Regions from separate parts of the Homo sapiens genome. Here region 2 is linked to region 1. The links come from fine-mapping of genetic effects on gene expression. Tissue or cell type: fibroblasts. Region 1 holds a variant in brackets; the other region holds the start of a gene. All regions are shown on one strand. Distances are between the middles of the regions.

Evidence for each region. PIP is the estimated chance that this variant, and not a neighbour inherited with it, causes the effect.
Region 2: PTPN14 starts here. The variant in region 1 is fine-mapped to the expression of PTPN14 in fibroblasts (GTEx, PIP above 0.99).

The regions. Positions count from the first base shown.
Region 1 is chr1:214,342,094-214,350,248 of GRCh38, forward strand. PTPN14 (protein tyrosine phosphatase non-receptor type 14) reads right to left here. Exons shown (of 19, transcript NM_005401.5): 19 at 6,607-8,155. Among named protein-coding and RNA genes, the nearest start is that of SMYD2, 65 kb to the left of the region's middle. RefSeq lists an enhancer at 439-940. The variant A/G (reference allele first, on the strand shown) is at 4,179.
Region 2 is chr1:214,547,479-214,555,633 of GRCh38, forward strand. It overlaps PTPN14 (protein tyrosine phosphatase non-receptor type 14), which reads right to left and starts at 4,124. Exons shown (of 19, transcript NM_005401.5): 1 at 3,705-4,124. RefSeq lists enhancers at 2,787-3,608, 3,609-4,429, 4,430-5,250.

The DNA.
Region 1 (8,155 bases):
ACAGTCCCAGTAGTCATCGCTGGGAGGTGCTCACAGGCTTTTGCCGTAAGTCCCAGCCAGTGCTCCACAAAGAACTATCCCACAGAGATTTTGTGTATATCAGCACTCCAGCTTTTATTCTACACTGTGTGGGCTTGGGCAATCTTACTGGTTCCCATTTAGCATGTCCAATTAATATTGCTTGAAGATGATTTATACACCTTCTTCTTTGCAGACACAGTTCCTCAGTTAAACCTAATGTCCATCCCCATAATACATTCAGATGCAACTTTTTGTACAAATTTTCACCTTAATCTCATCAACCCCTACAGTCCTAACTGTAGCCACCATCGGACATCATCAACAAGTTTTAGTTTTACAATATTAGGTAAAGAAAGTGTTCCCCAAGATGACATAATATCCATTCCCACAAAACATTCAAGTAAAGGAGACACAATTTTACAAAAAGTCTGTTTAAACATTCTAACTTTCATAATCCTGTCAACTCTTCTGTATTCCCTCAACCTAATTCTAGCTTATGTTAGAGCTTCACCAGTGGGTTTGGATACCACAGTCCATGAAGCCCCCATGTAAAGGAGTTCCAGAAATTTCTCCACCCCCTAAATGGGTGGAGTACATAACCCATTCATGTACATAACCCATTCATGTACATAACCCATTCATTTACATAAAGCTTTGGGTCACCAGCAGGGGGTTGAGGCAAAGAACTCTGACCTTTTTGTCAGTCTTGGTCTTGGTTAATCTTACTATTGTCCTGTGATTCCAGGTCAGGTTTCTCATTGTAATCTTGGCCTTCTGGCTTTTAAAATTTCTCCAAACTGGAGTAAATAGAGTGAACTTGTTTGGGACCCTTTAATGTTGGGTGACTGATATGTTTTTGCTGTGTCCCCACCCAAATCTCATTTTGAATTGTAGCTCCCATAATTCCCATGTGTTGCGGGAGGGACCTGGTGGGACATAATTGAATCATGGGGGTGGTTTCCCCCATACTGTTCTCGTGGTAGTGAATAAGTCTCACGAGATCTGATGGTTTTATAAGGGGAAACCTCTTTCCCTTTGGCTCTCATTCTCTCTTATCTGCTGCCACGTAAGACGTGCCTTTTGCCTTCCACCATGATTGTGAGGCCACCCCAGCCACATGGAAGTGTGAGTCTGTTAAACTTCTTTTTCTTTATACCCAGTCTGATAAAGACATACCCGAGACTGGGTATGTCTTTATCAGCAGTGTGAAAATGGACTAATACCATTAGGAGACACTTTGGTCCACCCAAACTTTAATAGTGCTGTATTAAGACCTTTGTTTTAACCCTATCAATGTCTGTCTTAGTCATACCTTTTTTTTTGTTTGTTTTTTTGAGATGAAGTCTCACTCTGTCACCCAGGCTGGAGTGCAATGGCATGATCTCAGCTCGCTGCAACCTCCTCCTCCCAGGTTCAAGCGATTCTTCTGCCTCAGCCTCCCAAGTAGGTGGGATTACAGGTGTGCACCACCATGCCCGGCTAATTTTTTTATTTTTAGTAGATATGGGGTTTCACCATGTCGGCCAGGCTGGTCTCAAACTCCTAACCTCAGGTGATCCACCCACCTTGTCCTCCCAAAGTGCTGAGATTACAGGCGTGAGCCACCACACCTGGCCTCATCCCATTTTTTAATAACCATTCAAGGTTTTCACCCTGCTGGGACAAGTCTGTTGACTCTTTCCCTTTCTTTTTGCTTTTTGTTTTGCCACTATCAATGTTTTCTTTATTCACTCCATTTCTTAACCATTTAAAAATTTCTACCCTCTTAGGATGAATCCCTGGACTCATCCCTCTACCTTTCATACCTATGCCTAATTCATATTTTCCTGTGAATTAGTCTAGTGTTTTAATTAGCATCAGTAAGAACCATGAGAGGAAGCAGAGAGAGCAAATTTGATAGGGCTTCTAAGACTGTTGCTCAGTTTTGCAGCAGTAAAGTTATATGCGACACCCACGCAAAAGGTGCCCATGCCTCTTAATCATAACATTGACCATGATCTTGGCAATGGGCATATTCAATGGGTGAGTGTCCCAATTACCAAAAAGCCAGTCCCACATGACTTGCATACACAGTTTATCAGGTACTTCATCAGAGTGTTGCTTTTAACATTTATAGGGGGAGTTGGACAGCCTCACTTCTCAGAGTAAACATACCTCATAGTGCCTTTTATCCAGTCCACCAGGCTGGTTGTTTCTTCAGGAATAACCTGCTGTGTGTCTGTGTCAGATATAGCCATCTGTGATTGTTCCACAGTGAGCAGTGAGTCCTCTGTCAACCCAGACATGTTCTTTCATTCTGCAGCATTCAAAACCAAAGATACTGTCTCTAAATCAGTTACTCTCAGAATCCACTTAAGTAAGGGTTTTTCAGGAAGCTGATGATATTGATCTACAAATGCGACAACTCTTCCACACTATCCCCCCTGGTTTCAATAGTTTATTGGTTGTACCTTCCCCCTACACACACCAACTTCTTGGTGACCAGAGGTCTTAGAGGTACCCTTTGTTGTCTCCACATAATTCTACCCTTTGAGGGCAGCTTCAAGGCTAGTGGCCAAAGTTCAGACTGACCAAAATCTGAGTTTGGTTTAGCATCAAAGTCCATCCAGCACTCTTTTAATTTCACTTTAGCTATTACAGATATAACAAAAACCAAGGAGTTATATGTTCTGCACTTTTCCTATTCATTTACATTTCCTTACGCATCCAATGAACCAATTCCTCAGCAGTTAGATCCACCTCCAAATTCCATTTGTAACTAAATTTAGTCACTGATAACAGCACAGCTGTCATGCTGGTCCATATCATGGGTGACTACATGACCACCCAGGAATCAAAAGTTCTGTATCTCCCACCCTTTCATCCTTTCTCTTCCCAAACCACTTTTCCATTAGCTAGGACCATTCTAGTGAATCCTAAATTTTCTGACACTAAATAATCAGGGTCTTTCTAATCCCACTTCTGACACCAATATGAGCTGTTTTGACTCACAACAGTTCTGAAACCAAATGTGTGGTGTTTTTGTTTTTATGCCTCACAACCATTCTCTAACTCTTCAATCACCAACTGTGTGTCCTACAATTCAATTCAACTCTGACACTAATTACCCAGAGTTAGTGTCAGACTACACTGGTTTAAGGGCTCAGTCCCACAAGACTGCCCTCACTTCAGATGCCAGTCACAAGTTATTCAGGTTCCCAGGTTAACCATACTTCTGTCTGACTTGGCTACAAAGTCAAGGGCTTCCCACAACACCTCCTCCCTTATTTTATGTTCATTAATTTGCTAGAATAGCTCACAAAACTCTAAAACACACTTTACTTTCTATTACTGGTTTATTATAAAAAAGACAAATGAATAGGCCAATGAAGAGGGTGAACATAGGGTAAAGTCCGGAAGGATCCTGAGAGAAGCTTCTGTTCCCATGGAGTTGTGGTATGCCACACTCCTGGCATGTGGATGTATTCACCAACTCAGAAGCTCTCTGAATGCTATTGGTCAGGGGGTTTTATGGCAATTCCATTACATAAGCACAATTGATTAATTCACCATTGAAATTGACTCAATCTCTAGGATCTCTTTCTTTCCAGAGGTTGGGGATGGGGCTGAAAGTTCTAAGCTCCTAATCAAGTCTTAGTCTTTCTGAAGACCTGCCCCCATCCTGAAGCTATCTAGGGTACCACTAAGAATTGTCTCACTACAGCCGGGCGCGGTGGCTCACGCCTGTAATGCCAGCACTTTGGGAGGCCGAGGCGGGTAGATCACAAGGTCAGGAGATTGAGACCATCCTGGCTAACATGGTGAAACCCCGTCTCTACTAAAAATACAAAAAATTAGCCAGGCTTGGTGGCGGGCACCTGTAGTCCCAGCTACTCGGGAGGCTGAGGCAGGAGAATGGCGTGAACCTGGGAGGCGGAGCTTGCAGTGAGCCGAGATCGCACCACTTCACTCCAGCCTGGGTGACAGAGCGAGACTGTGTCTCAAAAAAAAAAAAAAAATTGTCTCACTAAAACAAAAGAGCCTCCTATCACCCTTGATATGAAATTCCAGAATTTTCTGTGATACCACATGGCCATTGCTTGTTTTGCTATATGTTAATGTCTTTCATAATAACTTCTGAGCTCTGTATATATTGGGGTATTAGCTCCTTGTCATAT[A/G]TTAAAAATATTTTTACTCTAGTTGTCCATTAACTTTATTTTTCATGACCCTTGCTGTACAAAAGCAGATTGTTTTCATCTTTAAGTGAATAAAACTATTACTGGTTTATTGTAAAAAGTAATATTAATTTTTATTTAAATCTTTCATCTAGCTAGAATTTTTTTTTTTTTTTTTTTGAGACTGAGTCTCGCTCTGTCACCCAGGCTGGAGTACAATAGCGCAATCTCGGCTCACTACAACCTCCGCCTCCCGGGTTCAAGCGATTCTCCTGTCTCAGCCTCCTAAGTAGCTGGGATTACAGGCATGCGCCACCACGCCTGGCTAATTTTTGCATTTTTAGTAGAGACAGGGTTTCACCACGTTGGTCTGGCTGGTCCCAAACTCCTGACCTCGTGATCCACCCGCCTCGGCCTCCCGAAGTGCTGGGATTATAGGCGTGAGCCACCACGCCGGGCAGAATTGTTTAATAAGATATACAGGCCAAGCATGGTGGCTCATGTGTGTAATCCCAGCACTTTGGGAGTCCAAGGTGGGCTGATCACTTGAGCCCAGGAGTTCAGGATGAGCCTGTGCAACATGGCAAAACCCCATCTCTATAATAAATACAAAAATTAGCCGGGCGTGGTGGTGCATGCCTGTAGTCCCAGCTACTTGGGAGGCCGAGGTGGGATCACCCGCGCCCAGGAGGCACAGGGTTCAGTAAGCCAAGATCGTGCCACTGCACTCCAGGCTGGGCGACAGAGCGAGACCCAGTCTCAAATAAATAAAAATAATAAAATATCCCATGGTATTCCTTAATAAATTTTAGTTTTCATTTATTGAATTACTTGTTGAATTATTTATTATTTTCCCATGCTGATTTGGAAGGGTACCATTATCATTTCTCTAAGACTTTGGTTTATTTCTGCAGTATTTCATTCTATTGATCTATTCTTGTGCCAGTAAAATACTCTATTGTTGCACTGCAAAACTTTTAGTATATACTAGGGCTAATCCTTCTGGGTTCCCTTGAATTTTTCTGGTGGTGTTGTGATTTTTTTATTGGACTTGCACTAGAGTCAGTGATATACAGAGAACTGGCCTCTTCAGGAGTCTTCCTATTCAAGAATGTGGTAAGTTTATCAATTTGTCTAAGTTTTGCCTCAGAAGGAGTTTTGCTGTGTTTATACAAGTCTCATTTATTCTTTTTGTTAGATGTTTCTTTTCTTTAGCTGAGTTTTTTTTTGCACCCATTATGTTTCTTAACTAGTAAATCTGGTGAGTTTTTCCCATTTATTTTCATTAAATAAAATAAGAGGTAAAATCACATAAAATAGCCATATTTGGTTCTGGTATTGTCATCTTATTGCATATTTGTGTGTGTGCGTTGCTGTTTCTTATACTTATCTTTAGTTTTGTGGGGAATTATTCTGTTTCTCTCTTTTTAAAAATTTTCTTCCCCAGCTCTGCTAACAGTATATTTGGAGACAAATACGTCTACCAGGTTACTGTTTTCTCTCTCAATTATGTAACAAACCTCTACTTTTTCTGTTTATCAACCAAAGAAAAGAAACTGGTTCTATTTGCTCAGCTCACAAAAGAGAAAATGAATTAGTGTATCTGTTCTCCTGCCATTCTACCCGATTTATCTCCATTTTCATTGGCCTATTTTGTCTACTATCATCTTTTTTAACATTATGTAGCCTTTCTTTCAATAATTATAATTGCTTTGTTGCCACAGTCACCATAGAGAATTAAGTGTATGTTTAATGAGATTTGCTTGCCATATCCTCTCACCCCAGAGTGGCTTACAGTATTCTCATTTTTTTGATGTGAAACTAGTTGGGATCTCTGGTAGTTCAACAACTGCTTGTATAGTCATGGGGTTGTCAATGCATTACTGGGAGAAGTTGTTATACTTTTCTGTTACTTACCAAGGATACATAAAGCATCTACCCACATATGAGGGGTTCACCGTGAATGTGCTATGGTGGTTACTGGCTGAAAGTCTGGGACAGGACAGCCACCTTTAAACCTGGACACAAGTTGAGCTGTTATAAAGCTGAAAGGCAAAAGCAAGAATTTAAATTTTCTACAGCAGCCTGGTTGGTGCCTGCCTTTTCCACATCAACAGTTTGGTACCTGAGTAAATGACAGTGAAGGAGGAGTGAGTAGGGGCTTGGAGCTTAACGAGGCTTATTGCTGCATTTGTGAGAAAGACCCATTTCTATGTATTCTTCACTCCACTTGCCTAGTGATCACCCCTTTCAGGTTTCTTCTAACAGTGACAACCTTGGGAATTTCAAACTAAATCTTCAGTATGATAAGGTTATGCAGGACTAAAAACTGGGTAGCAATAAATGGGCTTTAGAAAACAAAGCATGCAGGTTTTCCCAGGCACTTTCAACTAATGCAAACATATACAGTACAGAAAAGAGAAGATGTAACTTTTCTCTGAAAAAAAGGTTTATTGCATATGGAAATCAATAGATATCTTTTACAAAAAAAGGTTAGAATAAAGATCTCACATTTGTAAAGGCACATATGAAACATTTTATAGCAAGCACAAGGGCAGTGAGAACATCAACAAGGTCCAATATCTAAATAAGACTTTATAAAAACAGATAGGAAACAGTGCAAAAAATACTGTCAAAGTCAGTTCTATACACCTCATAACTGTGTATACAACTGGCAAGCATAAGCTTATTTACTGATATAAAATAGCACATAGAATAGCATGCATAGTTTTATTTTAGGCTTTTCATATTATTAAATTGATAGGGAGTCTATACCAAAGTACAGTTGACATGAATAGTGATAAAAATCACTCCCCAGCTTAGGGAATGTCCTATAAACATCTCACCCCTCCCTCTGCTTACAACTACAGTTTGGTAGTAAGGAGACTGGGCTTCCATCTTGCAAGGTGGCAAGCGGCCACCACAGGGGGCGAATGTGCTCTCAGGATCCCAAGTCCCAACCTGGAATGCATTTCTTACGGCAACAACATAAGAGATGGTGATTAAATGTCTGGGTCAGCCCACAAAAGCCAACCAGATCTGGCTATCACAGCCCTCCATTTGGGCTGTGGTGGAGGTCAGTGGGCTTCTATGGGCTGACGCAAGAACCTTAAGAACAAACCGGTTTCTAAGTTGGGGACTTGTCTGTACATCGTTTCAAAATGAAACCTAATAAATGTCATTTGTTTTGAATGATACCAAAATTCACAACATTTTGTGAAACAAAGATCAAGGAAAGCATCAAAATACTGAAGTAGGGAGCACAAGCCTAGTCCAGTGAAACAAACTAGATTAGCTTGTTACTTGATGTAACACAAGTTACATAAGGTTACACATTTATTAGTAATTTGCATATTTAAACCTTTTTTTCCACTGAAGTATCCTCAAGCACATTAATTAGCTATTGAAGGAACAAAGGACATACATAGGAACTCATCTCTGATGAAGAGTAGCTTTATGTCAGAAAGGAGAAGGCTAATGAATTTTTAAGATTCCAAACAGTGGCAAGAAAGTTCAAAGGAAATTGCAGTAAAATTGTACAATGTTCAAGTTGAAAAAAAAAATGGCTCTGAATTACAGCATTCAGTTCTATGCTCAAGGTATGTATTAGCTAACACTGCAGTTGTCAGAGGTGGGAGGCCCCTGAGAAATGCTGAGAATGCCAGGCACCCCAGTTCTGAGAGCCACCCTAGCTAAACTCAAAGCAGCATTCTTGAGATTTTAGCAAAAGGCTCCGCCCCAAGCCACAAAAAGATCCCAATCCAATCTTTTCAGCTTTATCCTCTAAAACCTTTTGTCAGATGAGATAGCATTTGTGTTTCCCAGGAGGAGAAGGTTGGGGAAGAAAATGAAGATAGCTTACATACAGATTTTGGATGACCCGCTAATCTTTCCCCTTCCTAGGTAAGTGAAAACAGATAAAATGTTTCTGGGCAGCCCAAAGGTTTACCACCTGTTTCACTAGAATGGCCAGTCTGTGT
Region 2 (8,155 bases), 210 kb after region 1:
ACGTTTGTCAAATACTCTAGGCTTCTCAGATGAAAGACAACATTAAAGTTCAAATAACCAGTGGCTGGCATTACACTAGAAGTGTTGCAGTTTACTGTTTATATTTGGGCTTCAAAAAGGGAAATCAAGGCTGCAAAGATACAGCAGCTAGCTTTTGTACTCTAGTTAAAGGCAGACAGAGTTATCCTAACATTCTTTAATCAACTAGATTTCAACATTAGAAATACAAGGATCCTTATATAAAACACTGGACCATCATTACAGTAAGAAGTATACAAGGAAAAGGATCTTGTTCTCTGCCCTTCTAATCTCTCAGTGGCTTTCCCTCCTCAAACTTCTCTACTGCCTGGTCCCCCACCTCTCAATTTCCTCTTGTAGGAGGAGCCACATGGCAGCTGCCAGCCAACATGTTTATTTTGAGCCAATAGACTGAAAAAAAAAAAAAAGTCAAAAACAAAGCTTTATGTGTATGTTGACACACATGTGAATTCAGGCTGCTGAAAAAAATCACACACAAAGAGCACATTCATGGCCACATACAAGTCCTTGAACATATAAATAGCCATCCTTGACCTATTCTGTGTGAGGTACTGTTATACAGCATGACACTGAATTCTCCATACATATCCTGAGAGGCCAAATGTTACCAGATCCATTTTGCAGATGAAGAAACTGAGGCTCAGAAGGGCTATGACGTCCATCCAACATCACACAGCTAAAAAATGGCAGCGCTAGAATTCCAACCTAGCTATATTTCAAACTCCCAAACCTGGACCGCCTGCTCCAGCACACTGACAGCCAGGAAAAGCTACAGAATTTGCCACACATACCCCTTGGACCACTCAATAAGCCCTCCATGGGATGCATACAGAGGAAGCGTAAATTAAATCAATTTAAATCCGTAAGGGGAGATCCAAAAGCGTATTTTAACATTAACTTGAACCTCCTCCCTACCAAAGCTTTCGTGTTTGTTTTCCCTCATTCCTTAATTGGCTAATTAAGTATTTCATCTTGTCTTTCTCATGCCTTATCTCTAACAAAGCTCACAGCACTGTTCTCAGGCTTAAAATGAATTTTTTAAAAACACAGCATTTGGTGACTAAGTAATGAAGCTCAAATGCAAGAATTTGATGAAATCCTTGTTCAAAAATGACAAGAATATGGAACCCAGGGGGGCTATAATATGTAATCAAAGGGTTGATGTTTGCTTCCCCGGAGCAAATTTAAACCTCTAATAAGGAAGGAAGGCACTGGAAAATAAAAAATCCTCATAGTTCTTGACACTTAGCCCATCCGTTCAGGGCAAATAAGAATTATTCTAAAAATTCTGATTTTTCTCTGAATTCCTTATGGTGCTTCCCTATTAAAAGCCTAACTGTCCTTTCTATTACAGCTACCAGCATGACACAGTATGCACAAATCTGAATAACTCAAGTGTTAATAATAATTACATGTTTAAGCCAATGATGGAAACTGGGCAAATGTCTGGGATTAGTGGGAGTGGGCTTCTCTTCAGCCATTTCTCTCATGCAGGTCCCTACACCTTCAGGAAAACTTCTGTGAAGGGGCTGTTCCTGAGATAAGAAAAGATGCTGGTAGAGGGGCTTGGATAAACACCCAAAGTTGTAGGAAGTCAGTGTGTTCTTCCCACTCTGATGTACTGGCCTGAGGTCACCAAAAGCTGGATGTCTGCCACCTCAGCCAGGACTCAGCCACTATGAACAATACTACAACACCACTTCAGTCCAGTGAAGAGACACCCTTGAAAGGCAAACCACGTACAGAATGCTACTGCATTGTAAGAAACTTTTCTAGGCAGGATTTGCTGAATCCTGGGCCATTAGTCTACAAAAATGTGCAAGATAGTGTTTTCTATTTTCATAAAGTTTCAGAGAAAAGAACGACTTTAGCACAACTGTGCTAAAGCAATAGTAATGACTTAAAAGCAGAGAAAAGTATAACAAACTTAGTGACATACAGATGAACGAATTTTGCACCTCATGGCCACCCATTCAGACTGGGCAAAAAGGGCATCATGCCATTCAGCTCCCGCTCATTAAGGCTGTCATTTCTATGGCACAAGCTTCAACCTCATCACCAAACAATTAGCTAACTTTATAATACAAGGTCCGTAATGCTGCGGTATTACCACACCTACGGCTGTCAAACAGCCTTTTTAAAAAAGGAATCATTGCTTGAATGTGGGGGACAAAAAAGAAGAATCAATACCATTTTAATGAAACCGAGCATGGGCCAATTAAAATGTAGATGATCATACAACAGCTGCTTGTGGTAAAACAGCAGCAGGCATGGAGGTGTATCCAATTAGGGAGGCCTTGGCTCCTCGGTAAGCTACTTGTGGTTCCCATAAGTGGCTAACGTGCTTCTAGATTTATTTCTGATATTGGGGGTGGAGAGAATGCTATCCCAGCAACACTGCACCAACATGGCCATAAATGCCCCTCAGGCCCCCAGATGGCTAGGGAAACTTTCTGTCCTTCTTGTGTTCACTCTGCACGAGCTGTTTCCTCTGCCTGGAATACACCCTCCAGAGGAGCACAACCTCTATCCTCTAAGTGTAGTGCACCCTTCACCAGGACCAAGCTCGCCTCAGACTCTCACAGAACCCCTCTTCCATGTATTATCATTCTTCACCGGCCTTCAAGTTTCCTCCACTAGGCTGCAGACTCCTGCCCTGTGATCTCATTTAGCATCTTTCTATCCTGTTCCTAGCAGAGTAGAAGCTGGGTTTGTTGGATGAATGAGTAAACTAATCCATTTCAAGAAGTTAACACATTGGTGGAAACTCTGTAACTGCCCGCACCTGCAGTCTAGAGATTCCTCACCTTCACAAAGAACCTGCGACAGCCAGTCCCTAGACTTAAGCGGAAACCCCACAATTTCTGAAATTGTAGGTGGGGATGAGAAGGTTGGAGAACAAGAACCCAAGGAAGTGAGAGGGAAAGGGAGATAGGGGCAGCGTTACCTCACTGCTCTCTCCAAACGAAAAGGTGTAAACCCCATTTACAAGTATTCAAACCTGAGATCTGGGGGTCACGTGGGGAAGGAGAGGCTGTTAATACCTACAACTTTGGAAGTTTGAGGTGAAGACCTGATCTGAAATTGTTTGGCCACAGCTTTTTTTCTACGAGCCAGCTCGACCACCCAAGTAGGAGCCTCGACGCCCAGGAGTTCGGTGGCACCACTGGGGCCTAGTGAGAGGGCAGGAAAACTCCGCTCCCCTCAAGATTCCTTCCCGGTGGTGGTGGGGTGTGATTGGGAGCGTCGGGCAGCTGCATCCCCCTACCGCTGCAGCGACCGCGACGTCGTTCGTCTTTCATCCTCTAGCCCCCAAGGTCTAGGTATCTCTAGTTGCCCTTCCGAGGCCCTCTCTCGTTCCCAAAACGCAGAAGGGAATGGAGAGAGGGGACCAGGGTGTGGGTTTAACCACAAACTCCCCAGACTGCGCTCACCTTCCAGCTCGCTCCCGGGACCAGCTTTGCGCCTCACCGCGGGCAGCTCCCACCGCGAGATAACACCCCTGCGGCCCGGCCACCCCGCGCCCCAGGCTGCCCTGCCAGGCGTCCCGGGGCGCCAATCGCAAGTTGGCGTTGCCAGCGTCTGCCCAAGTCATCTGCAGGGCGCCCGGAGCGCCAAGGCGGCCTCCAACCTCGGGCCCAACTCCCGGCTTGGACGGGGCTTACCTGCTTACATGGCCCCCGTGGCGCCCCGGAGTCCCGCGCGGAAAGGCTGTCCTTCGCGGCGGCGGAGCCGATTCCCCACGGAATTGATTCCAGTGACTGGCGGAGGAGGGGCGAAGGGAAGGAGCCGCAGGAGGCGAAAGGGGAGGGAGGTTTCCGCCGCGATCCCGGCGCGAGAGTCCGAGCAGAGGCGCACCGGGGGAGAAAAGGAGAAAAACCTAAGCACGGGGCTGTCCCGCCCGAGGAGGCCGGGGAGGATGGCTCAGCTGGGAGGGGAAGGAGCGCCAGTGGCCACTTGATGTCTGTCTAGGGCTCCCCGAGGACCTGAGCCAGGAGAGCAGGCGGCTGAGCCCGGAGAAGCACAGCAACCTGCCCCCGAGTCTGCGCCCGCTGCGCTCACTCCGCCGAGAAAAAGTTGGAAAGAACTTTGAGGGGCCGGGAGAGCCAGAGCGGCAGGAAATGCGAGCGGCCGGGAGAGGAGGGAGGAAGGGGCCGTGCGAGTGGGAGGGGACGGAGCAGGCGCCGGCGGCCACGGCTCCCCCACCCCAGAGCCGGGCTCCGCGGCCCTGGGGGCCGGGAGGCGGAGGGAGCGCTGGGCGCGCGGCCGGGGGCGGGGAGGAATGCGGCCCGGGAGGGCGCGCGCCGGGGGCGCCGCGGGCGCGCGCTGAAACGTGGAGCCCCAGCTCCCGAGCTCCCGAGCTGGAGGCGCGCCGTCCTTGGGGACGTCACAGCGCTGGAATCCGAGGAATGCCGGGCTGCAGGAGCTCCTTCTGCAGGCCCGGAGAAGTCGCACACTTTTAATGGGGTAGTTTTGGAAAATGTTTTAAAAGGTGGGGGCCGAGGACGGAGGACCGGATGAAACTCCCTGGAGTAAGAGACGTGGAAGTGGAGAGAGCAAGGCGACCGCAGCCACCCCAACCCTGGGCTGCTCCCGCCGTTGGGGAGAAAGAGGCAAGGCAAGGAAGAGCCCACCTAGACTTCCGAGGACCGCAGAGACGGGGCGGCGGCAGGAACTTGCTCACCCCGACCTACATTCAGAATAGTCCACCTTATATTGGGGAACCCTCCAAGCAGGACGTTTCATGCAGCCACCCCACAGGGGAAAACAGACCAGGAGAAAGTAAGGTGGCCTCACCAAGTAGGCAATCTCAGAGATCTCTCCCTAGAATCTCTGGGTACTGGACCCGGTGTCTTAGCCTTCTCTCCCTGCCCCCTCCCGCCCCGTAGGAATGATAAAAAGCAGCCTGTGTGCTGAGAGTTGGAAAATGTCGTTTTCCCGGTTTGTTCCATGCCACAGAATCGCCCCACCCTGCCTGGGTAGGCACTGGGAGGGAACTTCCTTAGCACTTTCGGAGGTGGAGTTAATGAGACGCAGCTGGTATGATGGAAAAAGCTCGGAGCCAGGCGACTGAACCTGGGTTTTAGGCCCTGCCCGATTGGATAACTGAGGAGTATCCCAGCCCCTGAGATCCTAGGTTTCTGTAGCTGCAAAATTAAATAATTTGTCTAGATTTCTGTGGTCCTTTGCATTGCTACAAACATGTCTTGGGATTTATCTCGGTAAGATTCCAGTCCTTTGTTGAAAAGGGACCTTGAAGTCGTTGGCACACAATGTATTGTCCCAAATCACTTCAGTGTCCGGCAACTCATGCAAAAATTCCTGGCCTCTTGGGGAAGAGAATTGGAAACCAAAAAGCGCGGTGGCTCACACCTGTAATCCCAGCACTTTGGGAAGCCAAAGCTGGGGGATTGGCTGAGCTCAGAAGTTCGACACCAGCCCGGGCAACACGGTGAAACCCCGTCTCTACTAAAATTCAAAAAATGTTTCGGGGGTGGCGGCGTGCGCCTGTAGTCCCAGCTACTCTGGGGCTGAGGCAGGTTAATTGCTTGAACTTGGGAGGCGGAGGTTGCAGTGAGCCGAGATCGCGCCACTGCACTCCAGCCTGGGCTACACGGCCAGACTCCTCTCAAAAAAATAAAATAAAATAAAATAAAATAAAATAAATAAATCCGTAGTGACTCTGATTTTCTTCGAGCATCTGCCAATCTCTAGAACTGTAAATTAGAGAAAACGCCGAGTGCAATGCAAAAGTGATGGAAAGAAAAGGTTGAAGGGAAATCAACTTTCTCACATTTTAAAGGAAATAGCTGTACAGACGTGCTGGGTTTCCAAAGAAAACATTAGGCAGTGCCTGACTGTGTTCCAGAAAGTGTGGAAAGCACTCCCCCATTCCTAGATGAGGAAAGTGAGGCATGAAGAAATTACCTGTCTCACTGAGGGTCATACAACTAGGAAGATATGATCAGGGCCCTAGTCTGTCAGGCCTAAAGTGCATGCTCTTCATCTCTTTGAAATTGGACCCAAACAGGATTAGGATTAAAGATAAGAAAATGCCTTCAGGATCTCAATGTAAAACTCTGGCCTTTGCTCTTTCCTGGGAGATGGGAGACCTCTTGCTTGGTGTCTTTTCTAGTGAAAAGACACTAGGAAATATATTGTGTTGCTCTAACATCACTGTGCTACCAAACTGAGCACAGCACCCTGAGGCTGTTGTGGCATAAAAGAAGCAGCAAAGGACTTGTTGTCCTTCTTGGGCAGACACAAGGGTTCCGGTTCTGCCTCTGACCAGCCTTGGGACCCTGATCAAGGCACTTCACCTCTAGGCCTGAATTTATTTTCTAAGTAGAGTGTGGCAAAGAGGGCAGAGCTTGGTTGGAATAGTTCATCTCTGAGGTCTTTCCCAGGACTAAACTTCCATCAAAGTACTCTTCTCCAGATAGATGGCATGCCTGTGGAGGAAGCTAAGCAATAAAGCCAGTGGATAAAGCCAGTGTCTGGGGACAGGACTGTTTTCACACCGCCTTCAGATGAAAATGAATGTTGAGACTCCAATGAATGTGGCTGAGTGTTCAATGATAAGTAAAGCTAAGATTTAGCACTAACCCTGTGGACACATTTTAAAAATTTAGATAATTTTACTTACAGGAAGACAGTCTGGGCAACATGGCGAAACCCCAACTCTACACAAAATACAAAAATTAGTCAGGTATGGTAGCTCGAGGCTTGTAGTCCCAGCTACTAGAGAGGCTGAGGTGGGAGGATTGCATGAGCCTGAGAGACCGAGGCTGCAATGAGCTGAGATCACACCACTGCACTCCAGCCTGGGTGACAGAGTGAGATCCTCTCTTGAAAAAGAAAAAAAATATGCGTTATTAACTTAAAAGCCTATAGAGTGTATCTGACTAGCCATATTTCTTTTTCTTTAGAATAGATCACAGAAAGGCAATACAAATAAGAATATTTTCTAAGGCCGGGCGCGGTGGCTCACACCTATAATCCCAGCACTTTGGGAGGCCGAGGCGGGTGGATCACGAGGTCAGGAGATCGAGACCACAGTGAAACCCCTTCTCTACTAAAAATACAAAATTAGCCAGGCGTGGTGGTGGGCGCCTGCAGTCCCATCTACTTGGGAGGCTGAGGCAGGAGAATGGCGTGAACCCAGGAGGTGGAGCTTGCAGTGACCCGAGATCGCGCCATGGCACTCCAGCCTGGGCGACAGAGCAAGGCTTCGTCTCAAAAAAAAAAAAAAAGAATATTTTCTAAATAGAAAGTACAGCTTGAAGTGACAAAAACCTTTCATTCTCAGGATAAATATATAAAAGCTAGTTTCAAGCTTCTTTCAAAAAGAAAAAAGAAACCCATTTCCTAAATCTTTGTCACACTCAAGTCTCCTTATACTACATCAGGGTGAAAAGGAATTCGACTCATGGAATAGGTCCTGAACACATCACTACATGTTTGCTTTAAAGCTTTGCAATTGTAAGAACTTATCAATATTACATTTCTCAAAGCAATTACCAGATTCTTATAAGCCCAATTCAAACTACAAATACAAAGAAGAATCCCGTGGGCTTCCACAATTCCTCCCAGCCCCAATGTGTTCCTCTCATTAATGCATTCATTTTACACCTTCAAAGATGCTGAAGCCACTGAAAGCAGAACAAGTTCCCCAAATCAAAGCCAACTGGAAAGTAAGCCTGCTTTGTTAAGAAAACTCTGATGATCTCTAGGGGCCTTTTACAAATTTTTAAGTTTTATATGTACATGTATGTATATAGTCCAGCTTAATTCCAATTCCTAAAAGGATGTTTAGCAACTTGGAGTAATGGAGAGAAGTGGGAAGCTTTTTCAAATATACATCCTCTCTGAATCCTCTGCTTCTGTATCTTATGCCCTGGGTCTAGGGTAGAGATGGGTTATGGTGGGAGTTGGGAGGAGTGTAATATTTTTAGACAGTGTTTTAGGAAGATACAATTCACATTCAATAAAAAGCACAACTCTTAAGTGTAGATGCAGCTTGAAGACCTTTTCATGTGTATACATGCATGGGGCCACCACCCAGGTCAAGATATAGAAAACGTCCATCTCCTCAGGAAATTCCCTTGTGTGACTT